Regions from separate parts of the Homo sapiens genome. Here region 2 is linked to region 1. A link means that fine-mapping ties the variant in region 1 to the expression of a gene that starts in the linked region. Tissue or cell type: whole blood. Region 1 holds a variant in brackets; the other region holds the start of a gene. All regions are shown on one strand. Distances are from middle to middle.

Region 1 (2,757 bases):
AGGGGTTGGGAGCCGTCTGCTGTGGCCTCAGCGGAACGTCTACCCCAGCCCGCGAGGTCCGGAGAAATACCTTCAGGTGGGGCAGGCGTGGAAACTCCTGCCGCACTGCCCCGTTGCCCCATGTAGGCCCAGGACGTGTCCCTGTCAGCGGGGACTAGGGAGAACGGTACCGGAAGCCCGTGTCTCGGAGGCTGCTGGGAGCTGTAGGCCCCGCGGGTGTCGTAGTTCTGGGCGCTTTTCCGGGTCCAGGGGGGGCAGGGTTCGAGGCGTGGCCTAGAGGCGTTGTAGGCGTCGACCCATTTCGTCGGCTGAGAGACTGGGTCTTGTGTGGACGGTGCTATTCTGGGCGAAAGGGTTAGCTTATGGTTGTGGCCTCGCATTCCTGAGTGCGCGATGACGGACTCGGCGGGTGCGTGAGAGACCAGGGCCGAGGAGGGGTCTGTGCAGGCGGCTTCCGGGCTCTGAAAGATGCTTCCGCCCGAGCTTTTTTATTTTTAACGTAGCTGCAGCTATTGCACACTAGTAATTTTCTGCTCTGCGACCGTTTTTCTGCGCTGTAATAATCACGCTAAAAGTAGTGCAGGTTTTACTGCTTACAAGGGAGTTTTTAACAATTTTCTTAAACTGTGTTACAACACTACCCGTTCTTCCAGTTTTGTCCTAACACCGCGCGGGGCAGGAATATTCCAGGTATGTTGTGGAAATAAAGACCAGGCCGTCCAGATGAGGACACCCAGAGGTTGACTCAGAGCCGGGTATAGTAGGGAGCCAGCCACGGTCCCTTGTGTTCTGTAGAGAGAGTCAAAGGCAGGTAGGGAGTGAGAAGACGTGCATTCATAAGGAAGGGTTCTGAGTGGAGAACCCTATTGGCTTGGCGGGGAGCAGTAAAAGGGTATATTGGCAGTCATCTAAGTCCTGAGCTGTGCTTGTTGCCAGAGGTTGTGGGTCAGTGCTGTGTTAACTATATTTGGTTTGGCTGTTGTGTTTTTATTCATTCCTTTGGTGCCTCTATACCTATCTTCATCTCCGAATAGCTCCAGTAGATTCATCCCGTGAAAGTAGCTGTGGTTCCTTGCTGTGGCTTTGCTAGTTCATGCTGAGCTACTTCCTGGTAGAATTGTGCTGACCATTTATATTCACAACAGCAAGGGTGAAATTGCAGGTTTGCTCTTGTCGTTGCCACTAAATATTACAAATATCAAAAGTAAGTCATAATCTGTAGTTATTTATACTTTTATATTTGTTTTTAAGGCCTTATTTTTTAGGGACAATATCAGGCTTGGTAGCCAAGGCTGGAGTGCAGTGGTGCAATCATAGATAACTGTAAAATCAAATTATTGGGCCCAAGCAGCCCTCCTGCCTCCAAGTAGCTAGGACCACAGGTGTATGCCATCACACCTGATTAATTTAAACTTTTTTAGAGACAGGGTCTCACTATGTTGCCCAGGCTGGTCTCAAGCTCCTGGCGTGAAGCGAATCTCCTGCCTCAGCCTCCCAAAGTGCAGGGATCACAGGTGTGAGCCACCCCGCTGGCCAAATTATTTAGAATTAGCATTTTG[A/G]AGGGGAGTTTTAGAGAGCTTTCTTGTTTCCTCTTGTTTTGTGCTGCCTCCTCAGCATTTCAGGACAGTCCTGGAGTTCAGTTTAGCAATGTGCTCTTGTGGACTCTGTGCCAGGACCCAGAGCCCCTGCCTTTCCCATATATCCTCGTTCTTGTCCCCAGTGGAGGTTGGAGAAGGTTCTTTTTCCTGTGACCATGCATACATGTACAGTGTCACAGATCCCTTCTCAACCCTCATTGCCTTTTGTTCTTTCCCTATAACAGCTCTATGGAGATATAATTCACACATTGTAAAGTTCACTCTTGTAAAGTGTACAGTTCAGTGTTTTTAAATATATTCACAGGGTTGTACAGCTGTCACTACTGTCTAATTCCAGAACATTTTCTTCACCCAAGAAAGAAACCGCATACCCATTAGCAGTCTCCCACCAATCCTCTCAATTTCTCCATTTCCTAACAATTACTAATCTACTTGTCTGTCTGTGGATTTTTATATTCTGGACATTTCATATAATATGTGGCCTTTTGTGTCTGGCTTCTTTTACTTAGCATGATGTTTTCAAGTTTCACCTGTGTTGTAGCATATATTAGTAGTACTTCATTCCTTTTTATTGCCAATATTTCATTATATGACTAGATCACAATTTGCTTATACATCCCTCAGTTGATAGACAATGGGTTATTTGTACTTGTTGGCTATTATGGATAACACTTTGGTGAACATTCTTATAGAAGTTTTTGGGGACATATGCTTTCAATTTTCTTAGCTATATATACTTGGGGGGAATGTCTGGGTCATGGATAACTATGTGTTTAACTTCTGAGGATTTACCAACCTGTTTTGCAGAGTGGTACAGCATTTTATGTTCCCACCAACAGTGTGTGAGCATTCTAGTTTTTCCACATCCTCTCCTGTTATCATCTGTCTTTGGTAACAGCCATGCTAGTGGGTTTGAAGCATATTCCACTGTGGTTTTGACTTGCATTTCCCTAGTGAATAATGGCGTTGAGCATCTTTTCATGTGCTTGTTCTCATTTGTCTTGCTCTGCTTTTGACTTACAGAGTATCCTGAGCTCCAGCTGGACCCTAAATTGGATCCTCTTCCTGCTGAGAGTCCCCTAATGAACATTGAGGTTGTTGAGGTCCTCACACTGAACCAGGAGGTGGCTGGTCCCCGGAATGCCCAGATCCAGGCCCT
Region 2 (2,757 bases), 23 kb before region 1:
ATTTGAGAGGCTAAGGTGGGCGGATCACTTGGGCCCAGGAGGTGGAGGCTGCAGTAAGCTGTGATCGCACCAATGCATTCCAGTCGGGGTGACAGAGCAAGACCCTGTCTCAAGAAAAAAAAAAAGAAAGAAAAAAAAGAATTTCCAAGGGGGTTTGCTTCCTTGTGATTATGAAGGGCTAGACGTATCCTATTCAAATCCAGAACAAAACAAGACTATTAGTAAACATGACTACTTAACATAGCTCTGTCATACTAGCTAGGACTATACAATGTTAATTTTTTAAAGTTGAAATATGGAAAAAGAAGATATCAAATTACTTATTAATTGGGGATGGTGTTGTATCTATAATAGACACGAAAAATCCAATGAAATATTATTAGACTATAAGATATCTGCACAGTCTCTGAGTAAATACTCCTATGCCAAAATCAACACACTAACAGCAACAATTAAACAATGTGTAGCCTGAGGTTGGATCCTCCACAGTGACCAAAAAAACCAACAACCCGTGGAACAAGTTTAGCAGGCAGTGTACACGACCACCAGAGGGAGGCAGAGGGCTGCTGAGACCTGCCAGGAAATATCAAGAAAGAGGACACAGGGTCCTGAGCACTGAGAGAGATCATTAGGGCCCTCAGGTCCCAAGAAGACAAGACCATACTGGGACCTGGGACCTAAGGAAGATAAGAAAACACCAGATGTCGGTCCTTGAGGAAGCCAAGAGAATACCTCCTTGTCCTGAGCTCCCAAGGAAGATGAGAGCACCCTGGGCCCAAGGATGGGTGGCACACACCAGGTCCTGGACAGCTACAGACTTAGGTTTCCTCTCCCTAGACATGAGCACCTCAGCTTCCAGGAGCAAACTGGACCACAGGGGGACACTAGGCAGAGGATCCTGCTCCTCCTCCCCAATGCCTGGGGTACAGTTAGCCCTGATCATCTCTCCAGAACTAGGGTAGACGTTTGGCCTCATTCCCATCACACTTGTGGTCCACCTAGTCTTCCCTCCTTCCCCTTGCACACCCCTGACCTTCCTACTCCCTTCCTCTAATCCCCAGAACTAGGGTGGACGTTTGGCCACGTTCCCATCACACTTCCGGTCCTCCGAGTTTCCCTCCCCTCCCTGACCTTGAGTGGACACTTGGCCCTGTCCACCCTCACTTTCAGGCAGGACCCATCTCCCAGAAACATAAGTGCCGTCAGTCCCAACTCCTGCACACTTCCGGCTCTCCCAGTCCTCCCCTTCTTTCTCGACTTTGAAACTGGTGGAACTTCAGTACCTCTCCCCACTCCCCCCGCGACTTCCGTCTTCCAGTCCCCCTCCTTCCCCAAAAGTTGCGTGGACTCTAGCCCCGCCTCCTACATTCTCCCCGCCCTCCCTGTCCCCGCCCCTCCACCCAGATGGACGGCCAGTTAGGCCCGCCCCCTGCACTTCCGGCCCTACCCGCCCTTCCTCTTCCCAAGGGACGTCATAATTAATCCCGCCCCCACCGCCACCCAACCAAGCATCACCCATTCCAGCACTTCCGGCCTGACCCCTGTCCAGCGCCTTTCCTTTCTCCAGCTTCTGCTCTGCCCCAAGAGTGGTCGCCTTCGTGGCAGGGCACGACTCTCTCCCAGCTCGGGTCGCCGCCCACATTAGTGTGGGGCCCTGCGGCCTAGCGTCCCTCACCAGAGGCCTCCCCTTGCCTAGCTGGACCGCCGAGGGACATCGACGAGTATCCTCCTCCTGCTGTCCCCGGCTTCGCCTGCCGCCCCTAACCGGCCAGTCAAGATGGCCGCCGCTGGGTGAGGCAAGCTGGCGCGCCGCGGGGGCGTCTGGGAGTTGTAGTTCGGGACGGCGGGCTGACGCACTTCGCCGCCGGCCGACGGGCGCCATTGTGCGGCGCGCGCCGGGTGAGTGCCGCGCGAAACCTGCGTCCGTCGGGGGCTGCGCTGGGCGGGTCCAGAACCGTTAGTTGGGGGCGAGCGCGGCCTCTGCATTTTCCGCCGAGCTCGGGTACCCTGAGCCGGCCGTGCCTGCAGTCCTCCCGCCGCTCTGTGGGATGGGGTCGGTGACCCGGAACCCCGAGGGGAGACAGTGCTTTCGGGGCGCCGCGGTGGAGAGAACAGATCGCCTCCGGAAGCGTGGGGTCTGGGCCAGGGAGGCGATCCCCTCCGATGCGCGGGACAGAGGAGGCTCGGTGTCCTCTCGGGGAGGGGAAAACTGGTCCTATCCAGTCCTGTGGGAGTCCTATGACTCACTCTGGGCGTTTTCCAGTTTGGGTGGACTTGTCATTTCCCGCTGAGGGAGCCGTTCCTGGGCGGAGGCTGCGGTAGCTCCCCAGCGGACACCTTAAGCCTCTCCCTCCCCTCCCAACTTCGGTTTCCTCAGGACTCTGCCCACTTCCACCAGAGACACATTGAGAAGGAGGAAACTATGGCCTCCAGGCTTCCGACGGCCTGGTCCTGTGTGAGTAGAGGCTTCCTTCAGCTTTTGAGTCCGCTACTGCACCTGGGAGGATGCGGATGGTGGTGAGATACCACCTTCCCTGAGATACCCCCATCCTCCAGAGCACCTCGGGGAGGGGGTAGAGATTGGTTGGGCATGAGAGATCCTGCGTGATGGTGGAACCGCAGGTTGCTTGGTTTTCCAAGGGTGTAGTTAGAATAGAGACCAGATTGTAGGGGCTTCTGAAGGCCAGGTTAAGGCTCTTGCTTGTATCCTTTATATTGGGAAGAGTAATTGACAGGTCTTTTGTTTGTTTGTTTTTT

The links. PIP is the estimated chance that this variant, and not a neighbour inherited with it, causes the effect.
Region 2: ZNF274 starts here. The variant in region 1 is fine-mapped to the expression of ZNF274 in whole blood (TOPMed, PIP above 0.99).

What each region holds. Positions count from the first base shown.
Region 1 is chr19:58,204,099-58,206,855 of GRCh38, forward strand. ZNF274 (zinc finger protein 274) reads left to right here. Exons shown (of 8, transcript NM_133502.3): 5 at 2,622-2,757. Among named protein-coding and RNA genes, the nearest start is that of ZNF274, 22 kb to the left of the region's middle. The variant A/G (reference allele first, on the strand shown) is at 1,560.
Region 2 is chr19:58,181,544-58,184,300 of GRCh38, forward strand. It overlaps ZNF274 (zinc finger protein 274), which reads left to right and starts at 1,518. Exons shown (of 8, transcript NM_133502.3): 1 at 1,518-1,899; 2 at 2,378-2,455. The coding sequence starts at 2,423. RefSeq lists enhancers at 1,129-1,842, 1,511-1,930, 1,843-2,554, 2,181-2,370.